Regions from separate parts of the Homo sapiens genome. Here region 2 is linked to region 1. The links come from fine-mapping of genetic effects on gene expression. A gene starts in region 1. The other region holds a variant in brackets. All regions are shown on one strand. Distances are from middle to middle. Region 1 holds the start of KANSL1L (KAT8 regulatory NSL complex subunit 1 like). Region 2 holds the start of LOC107985977 (a long non-coding RNA gene).

What was found. PIP is the estimated chance that this variant, and not a neighbour inherited with it, causes the effect.
Region 2: its variant is the best candidate, but not a certain one, in a credible set for the expression of KANSL1L in pituitary (GTEx, PIP 0.60).

Annotation. Positions count from the first base shown.
Region 1 is chr2:210,162,481-210,178,055 of GRCh38, forward strand. KANSL1L (KAT8 regulatory NSL complex subunit 1 like) reads right to left here and starts at 8,929. Exons shown (of 15, transcript NM_152519.4): 1 at 8,669-8,929. RefSeq lists enhancers at 7,954-8,588, 8,016-8,195, 8,589-9,224, 9,225-9,858, 14,907-15,408 and 1 more and silencers at 8,386-8,695, 8,816-9,145.
Region 2 is chr2:210,128,472-210,144,046 of GRCh38, forward strand. KANSL1L (KAT8 regulatory NSL complex subunit 1 like) reads right to left here. Exons shown (of 15, transcript NM_152519.4): 3 at 560-701. LOC107985977 (a long non-coding RNA gene) reads right to left here and starts at 11,697. Exons shown (of 2, transcript XR_001739866.3): 1 at 9,907-11,697; 2 at 1,985-8,650. The variant T/C (reference allele first, on the strand shown) is at 7,329.

The sequences.
Region 1 (15,575 bases):
TAAGTGTCTTTTAAACATTCAAGTGGAAACAGCTATAAAAACAAGTCTGGAGTTCAAGCAAGAATTCATAATTAGAGAGATTATTTTGCAGAGTCACTGGCATATAAATAGTATTTACCCTAGGGAGTGGGTATAAGCAAAGAGAAAGGAGCCCAGGACAAAACGTGGGGGTTTACTCACATTTACTTGAGCAAAGGAAGAGGAGCTATAAAAGAGGAAGGACGCTAAAAGAAAACTGAAAAGATCATCGAGATAGGAGGAAATCCAGAAGTGTATGAAATCAAGATACCAACGTGTTTAGAAGTGTATAACATGGTCAGTTCTGTCAAATGCTAAACAGGTCAAGCAGATGAAGATAGCAAAGCCGATATTACTTTTTAAGGAATGTATTGCTTTTAAAAGGTTACATATTAACTAAATATCCAACTCCAGCAGCCTCTAGCCATTCTATCCTACCTAAGCAGGGAAAAACTGAGAAGCACTAGTGAAGTTCACAGCCCAGGGCACAGGCTCATTGAAAGACAGACCTTATCACTGGAATACAGAACATCTTTTCTATCCTTACATCTTATTAAAAGCCTATTTACTAGAGTTCCTTTTACTCAGCACATCATGTTCAGCTTTCAAGAGAAAACGACAAGGCACACTAAAGGGCAAACAACATAGTTTGAAGAGACAGCAAGCATCAGAACCAGATTTAGATATGGCAAGAATGATGGAATTACTAGACCAGGAATTTAAAACAACTATGATTAATATGCTAAGGCCTCTAATGGAAAAAACAGACAACATGCAACAAATGACAGGTAATGTAAGAAGAGAGATGGAAATTCTAAAAAGAGAATAAAAATGAAATGCTAGAAATCAAAAACACTGCAACAAAAATAATGTCTTTGATGGGCTTAGTAGCAGACTGGATGTGGTGGAAGAAAGTAGCACTAAGCTTGAAGATACAGCAATAGAAACCTCCAAAACTAAAAAGGAAAGAGAACAAAGATGGCAGGGGGTTTGAGGAAGAAGAGACTATCCAACCAAGAACTGTGGGACAATTACAAATGGTGTAACATATGCATAATGGGAATACCAGAAGGAGAAGAGAAAAAGAAAAGAAAATTGAAACAATAATGACTAAGAATTTCTCCAAATTAATGTCAGACACCAAACCACATATCCAGGAAGCTCAGAGAACACCAAACTATCACTTAATAAATGAAGAAATATATAAAATTATATTACATGAAATTTTATATACAATAGTATACTTATAACAAATGATCCATTTAAAAATTTTTACTAGAAATTACTTCATCACATATTTTCCCCAAATAGATCAAAAGCTACATGAAGGCAGGTGTTATGTGTTCACTCATCATCGTATTCTAGAATATTTTATGGCACATAGCAGGCTCATAATAAATATTTCTTGAACAAATACTATCCAAAATGGTAAAATTATTTTAAAATTTCAAGGAAGAAGGTTCATGAGATATATTTTATTGTGAAGGAGTCTCAAGGCAAAAAAATTAGGAAACATTAGTATAGAATGTAACTGTCCAATAGAAATATGAAGTGGCTACATATGTAATTTTAAACTTGCTACTACTAGACATATTTTTAAAAGAAACATGAAAAATTAAATTTAATGTCATCATATATATAAAGTATCATATATCAACATGTAATCAATACATAAACATCTTGATAAGCTATTTTCTATTCCTCTGTATGTGTGCCAAGTCTTGTAACCAGGGATCAACTATCGACTACTATATTTCAGTCCCCCAATTTTTTGGCCAAATCTATTGTTTAATATTTTTAGGCACCTATAGTATTCTAGGCTTTATGGAAAGTTTATGGAAAATAAATCCTCAAATAGCTTTCTAAAAAGCACCTGGATCTTCCTATAAATACTCAGTTTCTAATTATTTAGGTTTCCAATTATACACATAATTGGGCAGGAGTATTTGGATCCTTGCTAAATCTAAGAAATGTCTTTACAACTACTAAAATACTTTATTATATTACTCTAGGCACCACCATCATCTTTGATGATTATTTCTTTCATATACACCCAAGATACTTAGGAACAAGAGGTCCCTTTTCTAAAAGAATTTAGTCTAATGATGCAGAACTTCGAAGAACCTAGAAGGAAGAAAACTGGAAAAAAGAATTAAACTTTTTGTCACAACACACAGAAATGAAAATATCAAACTTACAGAATTTAAGAAGCAAAACTAAGTTATGAAAATATATCAGTCCTCTTTCAAAGAAAGCAACTAGATACATAATCTTGATTCTGTCAATAGGTAACAGTTCTAGATAATCCAAAAACCAACTATGTTTCTTGGGTATAAATTTTACTTTTATTTTTTCTGTTTTTTTTTTTTTGTTTTTTTTTGTTTTGAGATGGAGTCTCGCCCCGCCACCTAGGCTGGAGTGCAATGGCACAATCTCAGCTCACTGCAACTTCCGCTTCCTGGGTTCAAGCGATTCTCCTGCCCCAGCCTCCCAAGTAGCTGGGATTACAGATGCATGCCACCATGCCCAGCTAATTTTTTGTATCTTTAGTAGAGATGGGGTTTCACCATGTTGGCCAGGCTGGTCTCGAACTCCTGACCTCGTGATCTGCCCACCAAAGCACTGGCATACTTTTACGTTTTTACAACAGAATTTTCAACTTACATTCCAATTTTACTAAAAAAAAAACCAAAAAACAAAAAACAAAAAAAATTCCTTAGCACATCAGCAGCCCAGAAATGTTATGGATGGCAAAACAAAACAAAAACCAGTCTGTTATAAAACTGTTACAGATAGTCTATCAAGTAAATAATCCTCCAGTAAGCAATTCCAAACTCAGTGTATCTCCGGTTTTTTTAAGAAGTCTTATTAAAAAACACCAGAGAGAATTTCAGTAAGACAAGACAAAGCTTATGTTTTTAAATAATAAACATTTTTTAAAACTAGAAAGAATCAATTTTTTTGTTTTTGGTTATATTAAATTTGTTATAAATAAAATTAATCTAATAAAAACAAGGGGGGATTGTAAAGTTAAATCTACACCATAAATTCTAATTTTTAGACTACAATTTAATCCAAAGAACAATCACTGTGAATTAAGGCATTAGTTGCTATTAGTTGCTCTGAAATTATTATAAATAAAATTAAGTTAATCTGATAAAAACAATAGGTAGACTGTAAAGTTAAATCTATACCATAAATTCTAATTTTGGGTCTACAATTTAATCCAAAGAACGTTCATTGTGAGTTAAGGAAAGCATGAGTTACTATTAGTTGTTCTGAAATTGTGTAACAGTAGTCTCCCCTTATCAGCTGTTTCACTTCCATGGTTCGAGTAACCTGTGGTCAACTGCAGTCCAAAAACAGGTGAGTACAGTAAGGTAAGATATTTTGAGAGCGAGCAAGAAGAGCACATTCACATAACTTTTATGTATAGTTATAACTGTTCTACTACTGTTGTTGCTAATCTTTTACTATGCCTAATTCATAAATTCAACTTGATCATATGTATGTATGGTTAGAAAAAAATAAAGTATATATAGGGTTAAGTACTGTCTGCGATTTCAGGTACCACTGGGGATCTGAAACATATACCCCAAAAATAAAGATGGACTACTGTACTACAAATAAAAGGTCTTGCCCTGTTGTCTCCAGACTTTCCATTAGGAGTTTAATCTATATTTTTTAAGATTTCTAAACCATACATATTTATGAATTTAGCATTAATTAAATGCAATCTGATCCCTTGGACATCATGAAATACAGTAAAAGCCATCATCCTCAAAAGGTGCATGTACACAGTGAGATAATTACCAAGTCAATAGTTACTGAGTTGGTCCAGACAGTTAATAATCAGACCTTTACAAATTAATACATAGGTCACATATTTCAAAAAATTTTTGACAAACTTTCTAAAGAAAAATAAAAAATTTGCTAATCTAATCTCAACGCTCAGAGTTGAAACTGATAATCTATATAAGAACCACTCTTCCTCCTGAGAATGTGCATTAAAGATTAAAGGCCAAATCTGAATTCCTATCCCCTAAAATACTGCTCCAGATTCTGATTTATATTCTAGAATGCATACATATATTCCATATATGCCATGGAAAATATCCTATCCAAATCTGCCCCTGAACATTAAATTTATTCTTTTAACTGGAATCTGGATAATCCCAGCTCTCTTAAATGCAGAGCAAAGAAACAAACTAGGAAAACATTATCAGAAAGACAGCAGATTTATACTTGATGCTTAAATAAAGTGAAAAGACTACCAACAGTATTTTGAGAGAGGGGAGAACCCTGAAGTAGGGTCAAATAATAAATTATTTCCACACTTGTGACCTAAATGTTTCATATAGCTAACCTAGGCCAATTACAGAAAGAAAGAGTAGAAAAAAGACAAATTCTTTTAGCAAAATATGAGAAGTTTTTAAACATTATCTCTAGACTATAAGGAGACTAGAGGAGTACAGTCGTGCCACTGCATTTCAGCCTGGGTGACAGAGAGACACTGTCTCTACAAAAATTTAAAAATAAATAAATAAAAAATATATGAGGATTCAAAGTTACTGAATTGTAGCAGGGAAAAGTCCAATTAAACAAACAAAAAAAGAATGAGCTCACACTGGTACAGTTTTATTCCTCAAAAATACAGGAATTAATGGAAAGTAGGAATACAAAATACAGTGTTGTTTTCAAGATTTCTTCATGCCACTTTACAGGAATTCTCAATTTACTGCAGTAAACACTGCAATAACTGGCATAACTAGGATTCAGTCAGCTCAGTACTTTATATTCAATGATGTTTTATAAGCAAGAACTTCTTCCACTTTGAAAACTATGCCTAAAAAGGAATTCTCTTTGAAGACTAAAGGAATTTAATTAAAGATAAAGCCACTTGGGTGGCTACATAACACATCAAACAGATCATACTTCAAGCAGAATTATTACTTTTCACTTGTAAGTGCATGACTCATAGTCATTTTTTTCTGTGTATATCGATTTGGATCCAAAAATCTACATGTAGAAGTACACTATCACATTTGCTCAGTCTATATACTTTAGCTTCAATTTAACTTCACATGAATAAACACTGATTAATGACCTACTGCTGAATAAAAATTTGTTTAAATAAAAACAACACACTTGAGAATTGTCTTGGACTGGAAACAAAGCCTCAATATTATATAAAATAAACAAAAAGTTCATAAATATTTTTAGAATATTAACAAAGTCTCAATATTATTAATGAATTTTCACGTCCATACAGAAATGTTTCTAAGAACCTAAAAATAACATCAAGTATTTAAAATTTCCATTATGAATAGTCTTTGGATTTTTATTATAGACTATCTACTGGCAAGTTTAATAGTACCGTTTTTATTAACATTTGCTGGGTGTTTATCCCACATGATTAGGGAATAAGGAGTACAATTCAGTGAAAAGTCCCCATAAAACAACATTTAAAAGAAAAAGAAAGGTAGAAATCTCTTGGAAATTATATATCTTCCTTGCCTTTCTAAATGGAACATACTAAAAGTAATGTAAGATTGTATTTATGATTCAGGGTCATCATGATGTAAATTATTCCATTAAAGTACTATAATGCAGTATCAGCTTTAAGGATAGCGATATGAGAGATATGCTTTAAAATTAGTAAATTAGTTGCTAATTGTCCAATAAATGTCACTCCTGCTGCAAGCAGCCCCATTCCTTTCTGTTTGTATCTTGATGAACCCAATCAGTAAACAACCCTAAGCATAATTCTATACCTGAAGAAAGCAGCTCTCTGCCTCCTTCAACTACCATCTAATACTATATAGACAAAATAAGGGTATGGAGAGATTATCTGAATACATGAAAAACATCATGAAAACAAGGATTACATATTATTTATAAGATTTATGTGGTAGATTAAAGGGCATAAAGGATCCTATAGGCAATAAGAAGTGAGCTACCAAGAACCATCTCAATAATAAAGGAACTTCAGATAGCAGGCATCATTTTTTGTCAAACACAGTAAAAGCTACAAGTGAAACTACATTGATCAGTGAAACCTTTACGTTAATTTCATAGAAGACAGATGAATGAGTAAAGGAAATGAAATAATCTAAGGTATCATGATAAATGGCATCAAAATTGGATGAAGTTCTTGGATAATGCAGCAGTTGGGCTATGAGAAGTTAATTGACCTTCTGGTAGACAACTGTGATCAGATCACTGAGGCCTCACCTGAATGAAAAAGTAGTAAAAGTTATGAATCCAACAATAATAGTATATTACTAACAATGTACTAGTAAACTGAGTAAAACAAAAAGCAAAAGACAATTTCCTGATCTTCCATAGATAAAAAAGATAAATATTAGCCCACTGGCAAGTATTTATTGAGCACCCACTAAGTGATCTGCAGCATGTCAAACATGAAATATATTTCTTTCTCTCAAGCACTTTACAATAAGTTAAAAAATAAAAGATACATCACAGATTAGAGTGAAAAAATTTAAAATGCAAATTAAAGCAAGGTTTTTAGTTTTAAAGCCTAATACTAGGTGATAAACAAAGACATAATGGGAGGCACACACATACCACTAGATCACTGTAAATCAATACAACATTCTGTAATTTGGTGATGACATAAGAGCCTTAAAAAACACACACACAAACAAACAACAAAAACAGACTCTTTGGCCCAGTAATTCCTCTTCTACAAATCTAAGGGGGGGAAATTTCAAAGGTTTATGTAAAAGGATATTGTCTGTAGTGAAATATACACTAGCAAAACCAGAAACATCCCACATACGTGCCAACAGAAAAAATTTAAAATATGATAGTTACATGGCGAAATGTTAAGCAGCTATTAAAAATATTTTTCAAAGAATAATGATATGCGAATGTCTGAGTTAAATGAAAATACCATGTGGTCTCAGTTTTAGGAAAAATACACATATATGCAGACAGAAATATTTAAAGTACAAAATATTTATAGTTTTCTTATTTGCACTCATCTATTTTCCAATTACTTTATAATAATAAGATTTAACAAAATAATCGATTGTTATTTGCAAAGGCGCATCATGAAACAAAATTAAAATGTAAATGTTAAAAGTCAATGTGAGAGAATTGGCCTGGATTAAGAAGTTTCACATAAAAAATTACTCCAGACAGTTTGCGGGAGAGAATAATCTATGTAGATTAAAACCATGAGGAAATGGTTGCAGACGCTGACACTGATCTAAGTAGGTGGAAACTGAGGGAGAACCAAAGATAATGGTTACAACAGATTTTAAAGATACTCAAATATATTCTATTTCATGATTAATTCATTGTTTATATTTCCCCAACATGTGGGCTTTTAAAAAATTCACTTTTGTTATAAAAATAACACTACTTGGCAATTGGTAGAGATTAGGAATCACTTTTCCTAATACAAGGCATTTCTTCTTTCTTACAATCTCTTAAGACAGAGACCATATTATGAAACTTTACAAAAACGAAACAAGTTTGACATCAGAGAGGTGACTAACCCAAAGAAATGGCTAGTTATTAAGAACGGGAAAGGCAGAGACCACTCACTGTTAAGCCTCTTTCTCAATACTGAATTATTTTTAGAGTCATTTTTTCCTAGTCAGAAATTGCCAGTTTTGTCTGCAGTGCTCACTTCACTTAGGTTTTGTGGCTAACAAACCTGCCCCATCCAGCAATATTTAAAATTATTACTGACCCAAACTCAGATGAAGTTAAGCAAACTGGCTAAAGACGAAGGAAGTTTGTCTCCTAAACCTCGCCAGAACATGAATGTCCTGAAGTTTGGGGAATCAAAAACGGAATGTGCTTACCACAGTTCAAACAAAAAAACAAACAAAAACGGACTCTCCCAGAGTAAGAAAACATTACAAGAACGTCCATCCAGTGCCTGCCCTCCCGACTGCAAAGCCAGCCTCTTTCCTTTCCTGTGGTTTCTGAAACGGCCAGGATACCGCCTGGTATTTCTTGCTACCAAACACCACGCAATCTGACTTTTTCCAGCAAGACCGGTCCCTTCCTCAGCACACCGGTGACACAAACTTGGAAGCACCGTCCCTCAAAAATCCCCTAGATTCTGCTCTATCCCATCTAACTCTAAAGCCCAAATCTACGTTTTCCTGAAAGAAAGTGTGAAATAAATAAAATAGGGGTCTCATCAAATCCAGTGGGCTCCGCCTCAGAGCCGCCTCAAAAGAGCCGTCACCACACCCCCAATGGGTGAGGCTCAGCCGATGAGGCAAGAGGCGGGTCCAGGAAACCACGTGTTCTGCCTTCTGCGCACGCGCCAGCCAAAACAAAAGGGAGGTCTGCCAAGCCCCACCCCCCACGTGACCGGCGTCCAGGTCCGCCCCCACCCCTCCCTAGACCCCTTCCCTCCCCAGCTGCCAAGGCTGTTAGGTTTAGCCGTTTAAATTTGGCTGCGGTCAGACCCCCGCCCTAGAGCGCGATCCCGTGCCGAGACCAGAGTCCAGCAGCCCAGAGGATTCGGGGGGCGAAGGGGCTGCCGGTCGGTCGCCTGACCCGCAAGTCCACCCGGCAGTCTTCTCCCCTCCCCGCGCTGCCGCCGTCCCCAAGAGGGAAGACCCACCCCCGTCATCCCGCCGCTGAGACGCCGGCCACTCGCCTGCTGGGGCGCCCTGGCTCCCCTCCGCCGCCGCACCTTCGGTCCGGCCGTGGTGGGGGCTGCTGAGGTGATCTCTAGCTGCCCGCCCGCCTCCCCCACCCGGGGCGCCGCTGACTCGTCTCCAGAGCGCGCCCCGCTCCCGCCCCGGCCGCCGCCGCCGCCGCCGCCGCCGCCGCCGCCGCCGCCGCCGCCGCGGTTTAACAGTCCGCCCGCTGCCCGCAGCTCCGTGCGGCTCGGGGGGACGGAACCCTGCCGCGGTCTGGGAGCAGTGGGCGGGGCCCGGCGCTAGCCAATGGCAACGGGGGAGGGGCAGCGCCATGCAAATGAAGCGGGTGGCGGGGAAACCCCGGCAGGGGGCGGGGCCTGCAGAAGCGGCTCGGAGTGTTCTGGAAGTGGCAGGAGCACGACTCCCTTAACTCTGGTGCAGGGTTTACCTCGGCTCCCTCGGGACGGGTTCCGTGCAGCTCCTGCTTCCTCCCTTCTCTTTCCCAGTGCCATCCCTGGCGAGGGGGAAAAAAAAAAACACGGCCAGGAGACTTCCCACCCCTGCTTTGCTATTTTTGTACCTCCGTGACAGAAAAACAAAACCCTGAGGAAAAGTCAGGCGACTTCATTCCCTGCCGTCCGCGCCGGGGCCTCGACTACTGCTGGCGTCCGCGGCTTTCGCCCGCCGCTCCACAGGCGAGTTTTAAGAGATTTCTCACAATTGTCAAGTCCGCAAGTCTCCGTGCGTTTGCTTTTATTTGGGCCGTGCGTTCAAATGCGCTCATAATTCTTTCTGACCCTCAGAGGGGCCCTGAAGTAGGTGACAAATTTGCCTTGGATCCAACTGGGTGGTTTTATGATTAAAAAAAAAAAAACAGACAAAGCAGTTTTAAGTCTCTACAAATCTGGTTTGAGTGGCGCTGGACCTAACTCCCCTCTGCAGTAACGCTGTCAAATAAACAAACGGAGTTTATGTGGAGATAGTTGGCCAGCGACACCCAAAAACACTTCTGAGCGTCTTGCACCTGGCCCCGCGAACCGCTCACCACAAAACAAACCTGCACCTGGGCACTTCCCCAGCCAAGAACTCGATTTTTTTAAAACTGAACTCTAAATGTAGCTTCTTAGATGTTGTATCACAGTCTTTCCTAAGCACCGAATTTACACATGAAATGATTTAAGGAACGAAGAGCACTAGGCTTTTTAAGCCAGAAGGATAATAGCCATTATTTTAACCTTATCAATTGGATAAGATCCCGGGGGCGGAAGAGGGGAGAAATCCAAGGAATTGCAGTCATAACAAAGCGTAATCCGTAACATAGATAACTGGAATTGGAAAATTAGCTACTCGTTCCTGGTTCTTCTAGTAGATTGTGATATTACTGAAATAATTTTTATGACCAGCTGCATTTATTGGAGCTATATTTTTTTAATTACTGAATAATTGCACCTCGATATGGGGCAAGGGAAGAATTTTAGGAAATTGATTTACTTTCATTGTAATAAAAATTGTAAGCTAATGATGTGTTGTGAAAAATAATTAAATCAGTAAGTATTTATTGGATATTTACCATATTCAAAGGACTGTCCTAGTCCCTGGGGACAGAAATGCAAAAATGAATAAAGTATTTTTTAAAGTTTTGTTTTTTTAATTAGCAGTTTGAGACATCTAATAAGCATGTGTTAAGATAGATCAAAGGAAGATTCTGGATTTGAGTTGGACGTTTAAAAGACTTAAGAGAGAGGAGGAAGGCATCAATAGTTCAGGAGATAGTGTCCTTGGGTGGTTTGAGGAGATGTTGTGTGAATATTTGGGGGGCAGAAAAGTACATTGTCAACTAGATTGAGTAAATCTTGAATGACAGGAATTCAGATTTTAACCTGAAGGAACTGTAGAGACATCAAATCATTTAATGGTAGTTTTCTCCTGTGAAATAATTTTTTGCTACCAAACAAAATATTTATATATTTGCCAAATGTTTATTGAACACATGTTTTGTGATGGCTAATGAAGATATATTAGTAAACAAATTCCCTGTCCTCATGGAGTTTATAGAGGATGACAAAGGGATTAAGCTTTGTAACTACACAAATAGTGATTCATACAGCATTTCTACATATATTATGTAATTTGTTCATCACATAGCCGTGGGAGGTAGGCTGTTTCCAATACTCTAGATTAATTTTTTTTTTTTTTTTGAGACGGAGTCTCACACTGTCTCCCAGGCTGGAGTGCAGTGGTGCGATCTCGCCTCACTGCAAGCTCCGCCTCCCGGGTTCATGCCATTCTCCTGCCTCAGCCTCCCGAGTAGCTGGGACTACAGGCGCCCGCCACCAAGACCGGCTAATTTTTTTTTTTTTTTTTTGTATTTTTAGTAGAGACGGAGTTTCACTATGTTAGCCAGGATGGTCTAGATCTCCTGACCTGGTGATCTGCCCGCCTCGGCCTCCCAAAATGCTGGGATTACAGGCGTGAGCCACAACACCCGGCCGCTCCAGATTAATTCTTTTATCTTCTAGTCAGCCCTGCCGCCTGCTAAATGTTACAGACCTTAAATAAATATTTCAATCTATCAAGCTATCATACATGTACATTTTCCCTATTTTATATTCGGTTTAATAGGAATGTGGGGAGATGATTAACAAAATAATACAGGTTTGATATAAAATATATAGGAAAGCACAAAGAAGAAAACCACAATCATATGCAAAGTCTGTTGTATTTTATATGTATGACACTGTGCATACTGGTTTTTTATCCCATTTAGCTACATGTTAAGCACACTATCCCTTGACACTGAATATTGTTCTAAAGCATGATTTTATTATTTGTAGCATATACATGCGAGTTTTCCAGACACTATAGAATATCAGTTCTCCTTATTACAAAAATTGATATACTGAATCATTTGTCAAATTATTTTCTATATTACTCAGCAACAGCCTGAAAAGTGCATGTAGTTAATGTTTTTTTAAAATCAAGGACATATCATTTAGAAGGTACATTAAAAGCATTCTGATTTCCAAGAAAAAATATAACAGTGGTAAGAATAGAACACTTTAAAATCCAGCAAGAACAAGGAGAAGTAAAGGGCACCATTCTTGCTGACATAATAATTACCTATCTGGAAGCTTTAAAAAATGTCCAGGTAAGCAGTATTACAATGATTTCATGAGATAAACTTCTCTCTTCAACACTGGTTTTTATTCAGTCATTCCTTTCACTCAAGAAACATTCATGCAACACTTAGTATAGCTGACACTGTGATAAATGCTAGAGATAAAGGAGAAAGATCAATCTTTAATTTCAAGCAACTCACAGCCAAGAAGGGGCTTTTCTATCCCCCTTTGTTACTTTGTTTTTCTCCATTGCACTTATCAGCATGTAATGTAACATAGATTTTGATTTTTTTACTTTTGTAGTCTATCGCCCTAAATTAGACCATAAGCTCCATGAAGTCAGGCACTTTTGCTGGTTCGCTCATTGCTGTATCCCTAGAGCCTAGGACAGGGCCTGACACATGTGGATTCTCAATGCATATTTAATGTCTGGATAAATTAATTTTCACATCCCAGAAAGTGAATGTTATATTCATTTTCCAGGTGAAAAAAATATGAAGCTCAGTGAGATTAATGTACCTAGATTCTTATGCTAATAAATGGCCCATTTCGAAGACAGACCTGACTGGGTCCAAAGCCAGAGTTCTTTCCTCACTACCTCTCACAGAATAGAAAGCCTATTCTATTCTATTCTATTCTATCCTATTCTATTCTATTCTATCCTATCCTATTCTATTCTATTCTATTCTATTCTATTCTATTCTATTCTATTCTATTCTATTCCATTCCATTCCACGCCATGCCACGCCACGCCATGCCACGCCACCCCACCCCACCCCACCCCACCCTACCCTACCCTACCCTACCCTACTCTATTCGAGGTTGTCCTATTTATTTCTCCACATTTCTATGCCCTGAGAAACTGTCCCCCACTGTTATATTCCAGTATATTTAATTCTTCTTTTATGATCAGGTTTAGAGAGGGAAATAGAAGCAGAACGGCTAAACATGATAATCCCTACTCAGGACAGATTTAGCTTTAACTAACCAGTATCTATAAACAAGCAGACAAAAGGTAGAGGTAGGTAGCAAGACCTATAAGAATCTTCGAACCAGGGCTAAGTATAACAGAGAACAGAACTGGCCCATGACTACAGGGGAACAAAATGATTCCCTGTGTATATGAATATCCATGGCACTTTTATTCACAACAGCCTCAAACTGGAAACAGCCCTAAGATCCATCACCTTTGAAAGGATAAAGAGCTGGGCACGGTGGCTCACGCCTGTAATCCCAACACTTTGGGAGGCCGAGGCGGGCAGATCACCTGAAGTCAGGATTTCCAGATCAGCCTGACCAACATGGTGAAACCCCATCTCTACTAAAAATACAGAATTACCCGGGCATGATGGCACATGCCTGTAATCCCAGCTACTTGGGAGGCTGAGGCACGATAATCACTTGAACCCAGGGGGCAGAGGTTGCAGTGAGTGGAGATCATGCCATTGCACTCCAGCCTGGGCAGCAAGAGCAAAACTCCATCTCAAAAAAAAAAAAAAAAATGAAAGGGTAAAGAAATTATGGTACATTTTTCTTTGTATTCTATTATAGTGGTATAATAGAATACCACTCAGAAATAAAAAGAAGAAACTACTGATATATAAAACAACAAGGATGAGTCTCAAACAGTATGCTGAGTGAAAGAAGCCAGACACAGAATCATAAATATTGGATGATTCCATTTATATAAAGCTCTAGAGAAAGACAAATCTAACCAATAATGACAGAAAACAGATCAGTGGTTTCTTAGGGTTGGGGTGGGGAGAATTGACTGGGATGGGATTAAAGGGTGACAAAAAAGTTCTATATCTTGACCATGGTGGAAGTCAAATGGGTGCATGCATTTGTCAAAACTCATCAAAATATACTTAAAATGGGAACTCCCTAATGAAAGTGGACTAAGAAACCTCAAGAAGTTCTCAGTCTAAAATTAAAAACTAGGAAAATAGGTTGTGTATAATGTATGAGAAAACTCAAAATAATGATAGCTTTAAAACAGAAGGGTTAATCCTTTAACATATTTTATTGATTCTAAGACACCTTTTTTCCACACTTTAACATTTCAGAGATCAGAATAACTTCACAGTTCATGCAATAAGAAAGTATTGTATGAGTTTGATTGGCAGTGTTTTTTTAATGATACATAAATAGTGCATCTTAAGAATCAATAAAATGCAGTAAAATTAGTCTACAGATTAATTATTCCAGAACTGTTATAACAGCTCCACAAAGTCACCAGAGACCCAGGCTCCTTTCTATTATTTTATCTTCTCCATTCTCAGCCCTGGCTTCCATTTTCAAAGCAATCTCATGGTCCCAGATGGCTGGTGGAACCCCAATCATAACTATCCATTTCCCAGGCAGCAGGAAGAAAGAAGAGCGGGAAAGCAAACAGAGCCTTTAAGGTGACTTTCCTGAGTCCCTCTCAACAATTCTACAACTTCATCAGGTGGATAAGTTAATCTTTTATTTTACTTGTAGCTATTGTAAATGGTTTTACTTTCTTGATTTCTTCTCTAGATTGTATGCTGTTGGCATATAGAAATGCTACTGATTTTTGTATGTTGATTTTGTATCCTGCAACTTACTGAATTTATCAGTTTTAGTAGTTTTTTTGGTGGACTTCTTCCTTTCCAATGTGGATGCCCTTTATTTCTTTTGCTATTTTTACAAATTTGCCCTGAAAAAGTTTTATTTCTTCTTCTTTTTAAACATTTTAAGTTCAGGGGTACAAATGCAGGTATGTTACATAGGTAAACTTGTGTCATGGGGGTTTGTGTCCAGATTGTTTCATCAGCCAGGTATTAAGCCTAGTATCCATTAGTTGTTTTTCCTGATCCTCTCCCTCCTCCCACCCTCCATCCTCCAAAAGGCCCCAGTGTGTGTTGTTCCCCTCTATGTATTCATGTTTTCTCATCATTTAGCTCCCACTTATAAGTGAGAACATGCGGTATTTGGTTTTCTGTTCCTGAGTTAGCTAAGGATAATGGCCTCCAGCTCCATCCATGTCCCTCCAATGGACATGCAATGGACATCTCATCTTTTATATGGCTGCATAGTATTCCATGGTGTATATGTACCACATTTTCTTTATCCAGTCTGAAAAGATACTCTTTTCAATAAGTAGTGTTGGAACAGTTAGATATTTAGATGCAAAAAAAGTAAGCCTTAACATGAAACTTCATGCTTTATAAAAAAATTACTAAAGGGAATATAGATCTAAATGAACAATATAAAATATAACCTTCTTAGAAGAAAACATAGAAAACCTTATGATTTGGGTTTGGGTAAAGAGTTCTTAGACATGACACCAAATGCATGACCCACAAAATAAAAAAGTGGTAAACTGAAATTCGTCAAAATTAAAAAACTTTTGTTCTGAGAAATCAACTGTTAAAAGAATGAACTAGCTACAGTGAGAAAATATTTGCAAACCACATATCTAACAATGGACTTGTATCTATAGCGGAACAGCTCTGCAGCGGCTGACAACCTTGCATAGGCCACATAAGCAAGGCTTGAATGGCAGCTGAATCTTGGCAGAATGCTTTGTGATCCTCCTGGAATAGGAAAGCATGGGGGCTTGTGAGGTAGTGCTACATGCCATTGCTTACTGGCTTCCCTGTATACCAAGGAGGCTGCCAAAGACCCTTTGTCATTATCTCATGGTTTCTGATGAGGTACAAGGCTTCCTGTCTTGCTACCCTTAAGGCACAAATGCAGCTATTAAAAAAAACTGCTTAGCAGTATCATGGAAATGGGCTCCTCAGCAACAGGGAATCCTATCATTCTTGTTGTGGTC
Region 2 (15,575 bases), 34 kb before region 1:
AACATTATGCTAGTGAAATAAGCTAGCCACAAAAAGACAAAAACTTATGATTCTGCTCATATGAGGTACTTAAAATAGTCAAAATCATAAGAGACAGACATAGTTGCCAGGGGTTGAGGAGAGAGGAAAGTGGACAGTTATTATTTAATGGGTTTAGAGCTTCAGTTATAAAAGGTAAAAAGAGTTATGGAGATGGATAGCGACAGATGCACAACATTACAAATGTATTTAATAACACAACTATACACTCAAAAATGGTTAAGATGTTAAGGTTTTTATGTATTTTATGATTTAGAAATTTGAAAACACGTTTATCACTTATATTAACTGGAATCCAATAAGGAAGTTCTGAATTGCTCAAAAAGTATGATAAAATGATCTTAAAATACAAAAAGGCATTACAAAAATAGCTTCAATTTATAATAATATATCAAAAATTTTAACATAAACTGGCTACATTTTTATAAAACCTTGTAACAATTATTTTTGTGATCAAATGAGAAGGAATGAAAACATTAACAATTTTTAACAAAAGTAGAAGAACACAGACAGACAATACCTTGGAGGCACGAATTTGCCTGTGAATGTCTGTTAGTTGTTGGATTTTGCATTCTAGGTCTGAAATCTGAGCTTGAAGCCAAGTCCATCGGCTGCCAACTCGTGCTCTGTCTACAAGCCACTTCCATTCAGTACTACAGTTACTGTGAACAAAACAAACACTGTTACTCAAAGCACAAAGGCAATCAAGTTTCACAAACACTGCTTAATAACTTCCTTAACTCCCATCATAAAAGCAAATTTCCTTTCTACAACATGTAATTACAGGAAGAGAGAATGGCAGATTGACTTCTTATCAAAGAAAAAGATATAATTTTCCTACCTTTCCACCCCACAAATACCTGTTTTCATTAAATATTACATACCCTGTAGTAGGATAATTCCTCTGCTATTCAATTCTTTATCAGTGCAGAAGGTCTTAAACAGAGATAAACCAGCAAAGAAAAGGAAACATGAATGACAATGCAAACACCATGTAAAAACTGTTACATAAAACTTTTATACGTAAGTAGATGTCAAGTACCAGACAATCCATTTGAATGGTGCTAAATCTAAATCCATGTAATAAACTGTAGCATATTCGATTTTACTATAAGTAATTTTTATTTGTTAAAATAGGCATCGTTATTAGCTAATTATTTAAATCATTTTTTAAAAGCTATCAAAAATTATAAAAAATATAAATGCTCTGCTACATTTCAAATAAGCATACCAAATATATAGACCTTAAAATATTTAAGATAAACTGTTCCTTAAAAACCTGATTCCTAGGATTCACAACCTACAGATCACAAAGAATTTACATAAAGCCTTTCTTTCATGCATATTTAAAAATAAGGGTTGATTCCTAGCTCCTCCTAGTACCTCTTGTCATTTGGCAAGAGCACTACAGCTAGAGAAAAATTATTGGGGATTACGGGTGGTATATGTGTGTGATATTTAATTAGGAGATGCAGATTGCAAAAAAAAAAAAAAACTGACAGAAACTGAAGATATAACTGTAGGACAACAATGACTTAATGACAACATGTAAACTTTATAAAAAACTTATCTAAAAATTCATTTATTGTCAAAACCCGCTGACTGTAGAACGCCAAGAGTGAACCCTAATGTAAATGATGATCTCTGGGTGACAATGACGTGTTAATGTAGGTTCATCAATTGTAACAAATACACCACTCTGTTGTGGGATATTAACACTGGGAAAGGTTATGCATTTGTAGCATGTAGGAACAGGGGATATGTGGGAACTCTTTGTACTTTCCATTCAGTTTTGCTGTGAACCTAAAACTGCTCTAAAAAATAGTTTATTAATTTTTTAAAATGCACTGGACCATAATGGAATATCTTTCAAATAATCTTTAAACAGAGAAAATATTTATTCTAAGAGATCATTTGCTGTCAGATAAACAGAACACAATTATTATGGCTTTGCTATATAGAATTTATTCATTATAACAGGATTTTACATTATATCAATGTTTCTGAAAGGCCACTGTTTTTAAGGATTCTAACTGCATACAATGTGATTAAAGACACCATATGATTTAGGATTTCTCTTGGTATTATTATTTATTGTTTATAGTCATTACTGTGGTTTCATAAATTTGACACTTAAAAATCACATTTTCCTAACTGTGGACAAAATAAAATACCTATTCAAAATATACTATTCATAGTTAACAGTTAGCAACACTAAATGCCAATCACAAAATCAGAGAAGGCAAGCATGCTAGCGCGTAGCATTTTACACAGGTGAGGATAAAATGTTTGGATTTTAAAACAAAGTGGAAACTACTGGCAAGGTGGTAACAATTTTTTTTTTTTTTTCAAGAACTTTGGCTACTAGGTGGAGAAAGCACTGCAGTAGGAAATGAAAAAAAAGTCAGGAAAACAACTAAGATGTTATCTGTAATAATCTGGGTGTAGTACAGATCATTGTGATCTCTAAATATTTCACGTACCGCCCTACACTTCCCAGGCTTATGCATTTATGTTGGAGCCATTTGACTAGTTCTGAGCAAATGCGCTGTAAGCAAAAGTGACATTGTCATTTCCAGTTCACCTGAGGATCTTCAAAACCAGTAGTGCAGAGAGTATAGCTACAAGATGGAGGAGGAGAATAGCCCAGATCACACTGGACTTTATGTAAGCCGCAGTACACCTCTGCTGTGTGAAACCATTGAGATTAGGATGCTAATTTGTAACTCTAAATATAGCCTATTCTGACTAAAACACTGAATATAAAAATGGCTTTGACTGGGAAGGAGAGGGGAGACAAAGATATGTAGATAAAAGAATGGATTCAAGGTTCATTTTAAAGTTGATAGGACTTGCAGAAGTATGGCATAGAAGTGAGCTTAGGGCAATCAAAGATGATCTTAAACATTCTTTAAGTTTTGCTCCAGTTGGAAAATTCCCCTATAATATGCAATTTGGTTTGGCTATAATATTGATGATTAGTGAATAATGAAATATAACAGAAAAAAATGCCATAGAACTCATATTATTGTACTTCTGGTAAAGATATTCTGATACTCAAGTTAGGATTACAAAAATCATTGTTATGATGTTCATATACTAGACTAAATTATACTAATATAGAAAAATAGCAATACCAGATTAAATTTAAGTAAACCAAATCGCATCGGACGCTTTGTGATATATGAAATAAATTTTCTTTTTTTTTTTTTTTAGTTTTGCTGTGTCGTCCAGGCTGGAGTGCAGCGGTGCGATCTCTCCTCATTGCAACCTCCACCTCCCAGGTTCAACGGATTCTTGTCCCTCAGCCTCCTGAGTAGCTGGGATTACAGGCATGTACCACCACACCCAGTTAATTGTATTTTTAGTAGACACGGGGTTTCACTACGTTGGCTAAGCTGGGCTTCAACTCCTTTCCTCAAGTGATCTACCCGCCTCGGCCTCCCAAAGTGCTGGGATTACAGGCATAAGCCAGAAAGCCCGGCCTGAAATAAATTTTCTGTAGAGGGTAACTTATCCTACATTTTAACAGGAGTGAATAAAACATGTTTGCTATGCTTATAAGTGGTAAACAAAAATGTTTGCTTCCTAGAAAACATGTTTTTCTAAAAAAAATAAGATTGTTAATAATTAAGATGTTACAGATAAATATATGGCTAACTTGCTCAAACAAGATCAACATGTTATACCCCAAAGTCAAACATTTTATGTAAACAACTTATATAATCAATGTTAATGGTTTACATAACTTACAGTGTAACCAAATAGCATATAACTAATGCACCAGCATACTCAGAGTGTCCCAACTCCCCAGTTAGCATATAAGCCTGGTCTGCCACTGACTCCCTGAATCTTTCTAGAGTGTGCAAAACTGATCACAGACCACCACATGCTGACCATAATGTGGGTTCCCTATCTCTAGTAAAGATCAAAGACATTGGTGAGTGGAGACCACCTGGACAGTGACAGAGATCACTCATTCCCCAGAAAGGTAGCATTATGACTTCAATTCCCATCCTTGCTTGCTTGCAGCCACCACTTAACTTTTGCTAAAAGAAATGAGTACAAGCTGTTTAAACTTAAGTGGTTTTGAATGCAATTTCTCTTGGTACTAACTGTCAACATCACAAACTTACATCTTTGTTTTGACCTCCTGGTATGAACTCATTTGGTCATGATGAATTTTTACTGTTTGCTAGACCCTATTTGTTATTTCATTTAGGATTTTTCTTTGCATCTATAGTCAAAGAAGATATGGATCTGCTGTTCTCTTGTCATATTTGGTTTTGGAATCAAGCTAATGCTACCCTCATAAAACGAGAAGTCTTCTCTCCTCCTTGATTTTCTGAAGGAATTTATGTAGGACTGGAATGGTTTATTCCTTGAGTTTCAATGAAATTAATCAGTGAAGCCATCTGAGCCACAAGTTTTCTATGTGGGAAAGTTTATAATTATTAATTTTTCTTTTTAACGTAAGGTTTTTCAGGTTTTCTATTTCTCATTGTGTCAGTTTGGTCATTTGTGTCTTTTAAGCGATTAGCCTATTTAGCTTAAATTGTTGAATTTATTGACATGTACTTGTTCATAATACAGTCATCCCTTAGTATAAGGATTGGTTCCAGGACCCCCTGAGGATACCAAAATCTGCGGAAATGGTCAAGTCCCTTATATAAAATGATGTACATGTGCATATAAGCTACATACACTCCATTGTATACTTTAATTTCTAGATTGCTTATAATATCTAATACAATGTAAATATTGCTTATAATACATAATACAAAGTTATTATACTCTTTTTAATTCATATTTTTTATTATTGCATTATTTTATATTTTTCTTGGCTATTTCCATTTATAGTTAGTTGATACACAGATACAGAACCTGGGAATACAGAGAATGGTTTGTATCCCCCAATTATTCCACAATGCCAGAACATCTATAGTGATATTTTTCCTTCTTCCTGCTATTAGTATTCTTCTAAATAATCTTGCTAGAAGTTTATAATTCTCTCCATTGTTTTCATGTTTTATATTCTGTGAATATCCACTCTTTATCATCACCTTTTCCTTCTATTTGCTTTGGGTTTAATTTAGTATTATTTTTATTGCTTTTTAAGTAGGAGACTTAGACCACAGACTACACTATTCTCCTTTCCTAATACAAACATGTATAGCCATACAGCATTGCTTCAGTAATTTAGTAGCTGCATCCCTCAAATTCTGATATGTCATGTTTCTAATATTATTCAGTTCAAAACATTTTATAGTTTCTCTTGTGACTTCTTCATCCACGAGTTATTTGGAAATGTGTGATTTAATTTCTACATATTTCAGACCCACATATTTACCATTTCTTAACATTTCTTTTTTCCTTTATGTAAATCTGTTTTTACCCAGTATGATTTTCCTTCAGCCTGAAGATCATCTTTTAAAATTTCTTTAGTGCGTGTATACTGACAACTTCTCTCTATTTTTGCTTATCTGGAAATGTCATTTTGTCTCTGTTTTTTAAAATGTTTCACTGGGCAGAGAATTTTAGACTGACTTTTTTTCCCCACCTTTCAGCACTTTAAATATATCATTCCATTTTTCTGGCTTACATACCTTCTAGTGAGAAGTTAGCAGTGATTTTTATTTATTAACCACTTCTTCTGAATGACTATTCCCTTGTTAGCTGAAGTCGTTTTACATTTCAGATATTTTTAGCTTCTGAACGTTCAATGGTTCTTTATATGTTCAATTTCTTTCATTATGTTCACATTTTCCTTTTAAGTCCTTGAGCATATTTACAATAGATATTTTAAGCTCTTTGCCAACTACTTTCATGATCATTATCATTTCCACATCAGTTTCCATTAATAATTTTTCTCCGCTTCTTTGCATGCCTAATAGTTGAATACACACATGTGCACATACATACACACATGTCTAGTAGGTTTTATATAAATACATATTTTAAGGGTACTATGATTATGTTGTTAATGTGTGGATTTTGTGGTCTTCCTTAAAGAGTGATGAATTCTGTTCTGACAGGTTATTATATTACTTGCTGTTCAACTTCATAAATTTCAGCTTACTTTAAAGCTTTGTTAGAGCATGTGTAGAGTAGCCACTACACTAAGGCAGTTATCAAATTGAGGGAGAGGTGGATAGTCTGAGGAAAATAACTAGTAAATTAATAAGTGCATAGGCTTAACAACTATGACAAAATGAGATCTTTGGCTGTGGTATTTTCACATATAACTGACAGGAAGAAAAAGAGAATGGAAACCTACATTTCGGAGGGAACTCGACTAGGAAATACTACCATAAGCCTAACAAAGACTATCCCTGGGAGCCAAATCTGCACCAATAGAAAGCAGGGTGAGAATGCAGTGGTGTCTCCAATAAGAGTACACTAACACCCATGTTAGATACAGTCACAAAGAATCATAGACCAAGAGTAATTCCCAAAGAGCAAGGTCAGGGACTATGAAGGACAAATGACAAGGGAGCTTATCTCAGAAAGCAAAATTAAGGTCCTAGCAAGACCTTACTCCACTGCCAGAGCAAGAAGTCTATTATTGTAAGGAACAGGAACTATCATATATGGCCCATTCTTTTTTTTCCCATTGGGAATTTTCCTTGTCCTTTATACCATCATACAAGAAGCAAGAGGTCAAGAAAATTAGGAAACTTGTCTCTTAGTTTATTGGTCACCACATCATGATGAACCACACAGAAACCCGATATAGAGGACTTTACCCAATGAATGTGACTTTGGGTTATCATCCTTGAGAAGATGGTATGTTTTATGAATGAGAAAGAGGTACATGGACATTTGGGTAGCCAAAGAGGCAAACTGAATAGACTTCTTGTTTTCCCCTAATATCCATCCTCCTATACTTTTTGGATAATAGAGCTCCTTGGGTTTCAGCTGAGCCCTCAGCAGCTCAGCTTAGAGACCTTATTTCCCAGCCTTACTTGCAGTTAGGTCTGACTATACAACAAAGTCCTTGAAAATAAAACGTGAGCCAAAATTATGTGCACAACTTCTAGGTCTGGCCATTATAAATGATTGGGTTTATCATTAAAAATGACTGAATATGGAAATGAAATGAAGTACCAGTGACTCTCAACAATGCAGGCAAGGGCAGCATCCTAAGGAACAGCAAAGCTAAAAGGTCTCTGCTAAACCCTGTAAAGCATATCTAATTCTTGACCGTTAAATGAGAGAAAAATAAATTCTATATATTTATGTTGACTTCTCCTTGTTATAAAAGCTTAACATATACCTTAAATAACATA[T/C]TCCTCCCTCGAAAATATTTCATGCTATTAGGATCATTTGGGCTAACAAGTTCTCATTTAAAATGTTCATTGTCTTTAAGATGAGCCTTACTGACATACAAGTTAATAACTTACATACTCTATCATCAAGTTGTACACACACAATATAGACACATATATGCACACATTCATGAAGTAAACAACAAACAAAAACAAAAAAATAAATATACAGTTGTGACCTCTAGAAATTCTGGCATGAAGATAAACCACATTAAAAAGTGCAGTTTAGGATGTCCAAGGACTATCTGAGGTTGGAACTTAAAAAGGGTTCCAAAAAGGAAGAATAAATGGAGTAAACACATCTTGAGATCTTATGCAATTCTGCCTAGAACTCTGGCAGAACCTAGTGTCAACTGCCTAAACTGAAAATTTCAGTATTAATTAAAAATAATTCATATATGGGATGGGCAAATTTAGTCTTCTTCTCTTATTATCTATCCTCCCACCCCTCAAAGAAAAAAAAGAAAAAAAAGGAGAGATTGGGAAATATTTATGCATTCTATCGCTACCACGCCTCTTCTCTTGTATGGAAAGAATTTTCAAAGTTATAGCCTGTAAAATAGTCTTAAATATGTTTGTAAAATCTTTGTGTAACATCAAACATTGACAAATAAGGACATATTTTTAAAAGGGAAATACTGTAAATAAATGTTAAACTAATCAAAACATTTATTTGCTAAAGAAACAATTTCACTGTTCAATAAGCATTGTGTGTATGTGTGTGCATGTCTCACTTTTGTTCAGGAAGCCAGGCAACCATGTAATGTTTTCAAACTGAACTGTACACGGGCCTGGATGAAGATGCAAGTAAAATCCAGCAAGAGTTCTGTACTCCAAACCCTGCAATTACAAACCTACATCTGCTCAGTGGAAGGAAAATCTTTTCCTAATGCACACAAATGAGTTAGTAATGGGCCTGCGAAACACTATAATGGGCCCTGAAAAGAAATAGGATAAAAATTAAAACTACCTTTATTAATCAAAAAAATGACTACCACTAAGCCAGAATCAAGTACAGGCATTCCTGCTCTAACACAATATATGCACTTCTGTATAACCTCATGTTCTGCAAAATAAAAATAGTTAGACTTATTGTGAAGATAGTGCCAGACCACACAATACCTAAGGAACTTTTAAATCTGAGCCCTAACAAAACAATAATGATTATTATAAAAATGGAAAGTTTCCACTGGCATTTGTACCTAAAATAAAGCAGTCCACATTTAAAGCTTCATATCCTGGGTCTCTTCTTTTTTTGATGTGCATCCTTGAAGACATTAGTTCTAATAGAAACCAGTTTAATAAAAATTAAAAATATCTTCTAGAGACAGCATTTTTCATTAGTCAATTTCTTTTTAACACAAGCAAAATATCTTTAAAGCTTAGTCAACACAGAAAAATGTATAGCCAATAAACCAGCAACTTACTGAGCTACAGGAGGATATTTCTATAGGACTTTTAGCATTTTGTTTAGATCTTCAGCTACTGCTAAGAATTCCTCTTTAGTTGAGAAAAGCTTGACCTTGATCATTTCAAAATGCTAACAAGTTTGAAGTAATCTGGAAACAACCCACATTGTGGATACACACACAAAGTGTGTAAAAATCTACATTATATTGACATCATTCCCCTAAATGCCAAATACGTCACAAATTTACATTTTAAAATGCTGTAACAGAATGAATTACATACATTTTTAAAATATTACTAGACATTAAATGAAAAATATTTCTGACAATCTTAAATATATTATGCAACATATTATTTTAAATGATCCTGATGCTTACATGCATAAATTTGAAATATTGCATTTCCTCAGTGCTAAAGATGCCATAAAATTTAAATACAATCAATTTCATAACATAATTCCCTGGGGTGGGAAAATAATATAATATTAATTCTATACATCTGGCCAGGCACAGTGGCTCATGCCTGTAATACCAGCACTTTGGTAGGCCGAGGCAGGCAGATCATTTGAGCTGAGGAGTTTGAGACCAGACTAAGCAGCACAGCAAAAACCTGTCTCTACAAAAAACAGAAAAATTAGCCAGGCATGGTGGTGCATACCTGTAGTCCCAGATACTTGGGAGGCTGAGTTAAGAAAATCACTTGAGCCCAGGAGGTTGAGGCTGCAATGAGCCATCATTGTGCCACTGCACTCCACCCTGGGCAACAGAGCAAGACTCTGACTCAAAAAAAAAATTGTACATATCTATATAAGGTACATCTATTAGAAACATTAAAATGTGATAAAAATGTGCATTTTGGAATCCAAGAAGCATGTTACATCGAAAGTACAAATTTTCATGAGCTGTGATTTTTTTTTTACAACTATGAAAATTTATTTTATTTTTAAAAACAGTGCTAATCACAGAAACAGAAAACCAAATACTGCATGTTCTCACTTATAAGTGGGGGCTAAATATTGGGTAAACATAGACATAAAGATGGCAACGATAGACACTGGGGACTAATGGAGGGGAGAGGAAGGGGGTGGGTAAGGGTTGAAAAGCTAACTATTGTATATTATGCTCACTACCTGGACAATGGGATCAATCAGACCCCAAACTTCAGTATCATGGAATATACACATGTAACAAGCCTGCATACATACCCTGTAAATCTAAAATAAAAGATGGCAGTGTTAAAAAAAGTTAATGATATCAATTCTATAAAAAAAACTTTTAGAAATAATATTTGCAGTGTTTAGATTTGTCTAAGGAAGCTTAACATTGGGACTTACGCTTTTTAAAAATCTTTTTTAGCTTTATTAAGATTCAAATGACAAAAATATTACATATTTATGGTGTACATATTTATATATTAACACAATGCTGTCCTATATGTACACATTGTATAAGATTAAACCATGCTAATTAACATATCCATCATCTCATATACTTTTTCTATGGTGGGAACATTTAACATTTTTTATGGTAACAACATTGAAAATATCATAAGTCGAAATGCATTGAATTGGCCAGGTGCAGTGGCTCACACCTGTATTCCCATCACTTTGGGAGGCTGAGGCAGATGGATCACCTAAGGTCAGGAGTTCAAGACCAGCCTGGACAACATGGCGAAACCCCGCCTCTACTAAAAATACAAAAAATAGCCAGGTGTGGTGGCAGGTGTCTGTAATCCCAGCTACTGGGGAGGCTGAGGCAGGAGGATTGCTCGAACCTGGGAGGTAGAGGTTGCAGGGAGCCAAGATCGCACCACTGCACTCCAGCCTGGGCAACAAAGCAAGACTCCATCTCAAAACAAAACAAAACAAAACAAAAAGAAATGCATTCAATTATGTCTCAATAAACTCACCTTAAAGTTGAAAAATTGTAAGTTGAGCCATCATAAGTCAGGGACTCAACACGGTATGTTATTATTAACTACAGTCACTATGCTGACCATCTCCAGAACTTATTCCTCCTAACTGACATCCATACCTACACACACTACATTTTCCTTATCCATTCATCTGTCAATGGTCAGTTTGATTGCATACTTTGGCCACTGTAAATGAGTATCAACATGAGAGTGCAGGTATCAACTCAACATACTGATTTAATTTCCTTTTGACATATACCCAGAAGTAGGATTATTGGGTCATATGGTAATTCTATTTTAAATTTCCAGAGAAACCTCCTTACTATTTTCTGTAATATCTGTGCTTGTTTACATTCCCACAGTGTACAAGAGTTTCCTTTTATCTGTATCCTCTCCAACATTTGTTATTCTTTTTCTTGTAATAGCCATTTTAACAGGTGTGAGACGGTATCTCATTATAGTTTTAATTGGTATTTCCCTGATGATTAGTGATGTTGAGCACTTTCTCATCTATGTGTTGGCCATTTGTATATCTTCTTTGGAAAAAGAAATTGTCTATTCAGGTCCTTTGCCCATTTCCTTTTTTTTTTTTTTTTTGAGACAGGGTCTCTTTCTGTCACCAAGGCTGGAGTGCAGAGGCGCAATCTTGGCTCACTGCAACCTCAACCTCCTGGGCTCGAGTGATCTTCCCATCTCAGTCTCCTGAGTGGCTGGAACTGCAGGTGCACACCACCATGCCTGGCTAACTTTTGTATTTTTTTGTAAAGACAAGGTTTTGACATGTTACCCAAGCTGGTCTCAAATTCCTGAGCTCAAGCGATCCACCGGGCTACACCTCCTTGGCCACTTTGCCCATTTTTTAATCAGGTTATTTGTTTTCTTACTATTGAGTAATTTAACTTCCATATGTACTTTGGAAATCCTCCCTTTTCAGACGTATAGTTTGCAAATATTTTCTCCCATTTCATAGGTTGTCTCTTCACTCTGCTGTTTCTTTTGCTGTGTCAAACCTTTTTAGTTTGATGCAATTTCATTTGTCTATTTTTGCTTTTGTTACCTGTGCTTTGGAGTGCATATCCAAAAAATATTTGCCAACATCAATGTCGAGAAGCTTTTTCTGTTTTATTCAGGTCTTATGTTGAAGTCTTTAATCACCTTAAGTTGATGTGGGAATAAGGAGTAAGATAAGGGTCCAATTTCATCCTTTGATATGTAGATAACCCATTTTCCCAACACTGTTGAAAAGACTATCCCTTCCTCATTGTGTGCCCGTGGCATCTTTATTAAAGAATAATTGGCCATAAATGCATGGATTTATTTCTAGGCTCTCTATTCTGTTTCATAGGCATATGTGTGTTTTTAATTCCAGTGGCATGCTGTTTTGACTATTATAGTTTTCTCAATGTATTTTGAAGTCAGGTAATGTGGTGCCTCCAGCTTTGTTCTTTTTGCTCAAGATTGCTTTGGCTCATGGGGTCTTGCTTGGTTTTACATAAATTTTTGAATTTTTTCCCATTTCTATGGAAAATGCCAGTGGAATTTTGATAACAATGATATGGAATTTGTAGATTGCTTTGGGTTGTATGGACATTTTAACAACTCTTCCAATCCGTGAACACAGGATGTTTTTCCATTTGTTTCTTTTTCCATTTTTTCATTCATGTTTAGTTGTTGGTGTACATATCTTTCACCACCATGGTTAAATTTATTCCTAAGTATGTTAGCATTTTAAGTAGGATGGTTTTCTTTTGGACAGCTTAATATTAGTGTATAGAAATAATACAGATCTTTGTAGATTGATTTTATATCCTGAAACGCTAATTAATTTATTTCTAACATTGTTTTGATGGGGTCTTTACACTTTTCTTATCTCTAAGATGTCATCAGCAAAGAAAATTTAACTTCTTTCCCTGATTTGGATACTTTTTTAAAATTTCTTTTCTTTCCTCTCTTCCCCTCACTCCCTCCTTCCTTCCTCCCTTCCCTTCCCCACTCCTCTCTGTTTTCTTTCTTTTCTTTCTCTCCCTTTCTCTTTTTCTTTTTTCTTTTCTTTCCTTTTTCTCTTTTATTTATTTATTTTTATGCCTAATGAACCTGGCTAGCAATTCCAGTATATGTTGAATAGATTGGTCAGAGTAGGTGGTATCATCTGAACACTGTGTCCTCAAAATTCATATGTTAAAACCTAATTCCCAATGTGATGGCCTTAAGAGGGTGAGCCTTTGGAGATGATTAGGTGATTAGGCTCCACCTTTATCATGAGATTAATACTCTTATAAAAGAGGCCTGAGGAAGCTTGTTCTCCCTATCTACCATGTGAGAACAGAGGTAGAAGATGCCAACATGAAGGAAAGAACAAGCCCTCACCTAACACTGAATCCGCTGACAACTTGGCCTTGGACTTCCCAGCCTCCAGACTGTAAAATAATTTCTGTTGTTAATAAGTTACTGAGTCTAAGGTATTTTCTTACAATAGCCCAAGCAGATGAAATGGTCGAGGAAAAGGTATCAAGTTTTTGCCACTAAATTGGATGTTAACTGTGAGCTTATCATATATGGCCTTTATTGGTAGAGGTACATTCCTTCGATACCTAATCTGTTGAGAGTCTGAATTCTGTCAAATCCTTCTTCTGCAAATGTATTAAGAATGTTTTTTGTCCTTCATTCTGTTAATGTGGTGTATCCTACTTATTGATTTGTATATGTGGAACCATCCTTGCATCCCAGGGATAAATTCCACTTGACTGTGGTGAATGATCCTTTTAATGTGTAGTTAATTCAGTTTGTTAGTATTTTGGCAAGGATAGTGACAAAGGACATTGGCCTATAATCTTTTTTTTTTTTTTTCTTATAGTGTCCTTCTCTGGCTTTGGTATCAGAGTAATGCTGGTCTCATAAAATGAGTTTGAAAGTATTCCCTCCTCCTCTTCAATTTTTTTTTTAAGAGTTTGAGTACAGTGAAGTCATCAGGTGCTGGGCTTTCCTTTGATGGGGGACTTTATTACTGTTTTAATCTCTTTACTTGCTATTGGTTAGTTCCAATTTTCTATTTCTTCATGATTCATGTTAGATTCTATGTGTCTAGGAATTTATACATTTTTAGGTTATCCAATTTGTTGGCATAGAGATGTTGCATAATAGTCTCTTATGATCCATTATATTTCTGTGGTATCAGCTGTAATGTCTCCTTTTTCATTTCTGATGTTATATATTTGGGTCTTTTTTCATTTCTTAATCTAGCTAAGGTTTGTCAATTCTGCTTATCTTTTCAAAAAAACCAACTCTTGGTTTCATCAATCTTTTCTATTGTTTTTCTAATATCTTCTGCTTTGATCTTCATTATTTCCTTTCTTGTACTAATTTTGGGATTAGTTTGTTCTTTTTCTGCTTCCTTGAAGTATAATGTTGTTTGAGATGACTTTTTCAATGTAGGTGTTTATTGTTACAAAATTTCCTTATTAGAACTCCTTTTGCTGCACCCCATAGTTTTGTAAACTGTGTTTCCATTTTCATTTCTCTCAAGATATTTTAAAATTTCTCTTTAAATTTAGTCATTAATCCATTGGCTTTTCTTGATTTCCACATATTTGTGAATTTTCCAAAATTCCTCCTGTTACTGATTTCTAATTTCATATGATTTTGGCTGGAAAAAATACTTGATATGATTTCAATCATTTTGGTTAAGATTTGTCATGTGGCCTAACATATGATCAATCCTGAAGAATGTTCCCTTACACTTGAAAACAATGTGTATTACAATGTTGGATGGAATGTTCTATATATCTCTGTTAGGTCCATTTGGCCTAAACTATAGTTCCAGCCCAATGCTTCCTTTTGATTTTGTCTGGATGATTTATCCATTATTGAAAGTGGGGTATTAAAGTCCCCTACTATTATTGTATTGCAGTCTATTTTTTCCTTCACATCTATTAATATTTGCTTTATATATTTAGATTCTCTGATATTGGTTACATATGTTTATAATGTAGTATCCTCTTAATAAACTGGCCTCTTTATCAATTATATACTTACCTTTTTGTCTTTTTTTACATGTTTTGGCCTAAAGTGCATTTTTTTTCTGATATACATGTAGCTACCCCTGCTCTCTTTTGGTTTCCATTTGCATGGAATACCATATTTTATTCCTTCACTTTTAGTCTGTGTGTGTCCTTATACTGGAAGTGAGTCTCTCACAGGGCACATACAGCTAGCTGGGTCTTAAAAAAAATCCATTCACTGACTATATATGTTTTTAAATTGGATAATTTAATCCATTTATATCCGAGGCAATTGTTGATAGGTAAAGGTTTATTATTGCCTTTGTGTTCACTGTTTTCTGTTTTCGTTTTGTTTTTAATGCAGATCCTTTGTTCCTTTCTTCCTCTCTTGCTGTCTTCCTTTGTGATTTGGTGATTTTCTGTAATTATATGCCTGGATTCCTTTCTCTTCATCTTTTGTATATCTACTATAGGTTTTTGCTTTGTGGTTACCATTAGGCTTAAGAAAGAACAATTCATAGTTATTAGGAGTCTATTTCAAGCTGATAATAACTTCAATCTCATATACAAACTCTCTATACTTTTATTCCTCCTATTCTATGCTTTTGATATCACAATTTACATCTTTTCATATTGTACATCCTATGACAAATTATTGTAGCTATTATTTTAATAGCTTTGTCTTTTAATTATAATAAAAACAAGTGATTTATACACCACCATTATTAGAGTATTCTGAATTGACTATTACCAGTGAGTTTTACACTTTCATATGTTTTCATGTTCCTAATTAGCATTCTTTTTCTTTTCAGCCTGAAGAATTCCCTTTACCATTTCTTGTAAGGCAGATCTAGTGATGATGAACTTTCTCAGATTTTGTATGTCT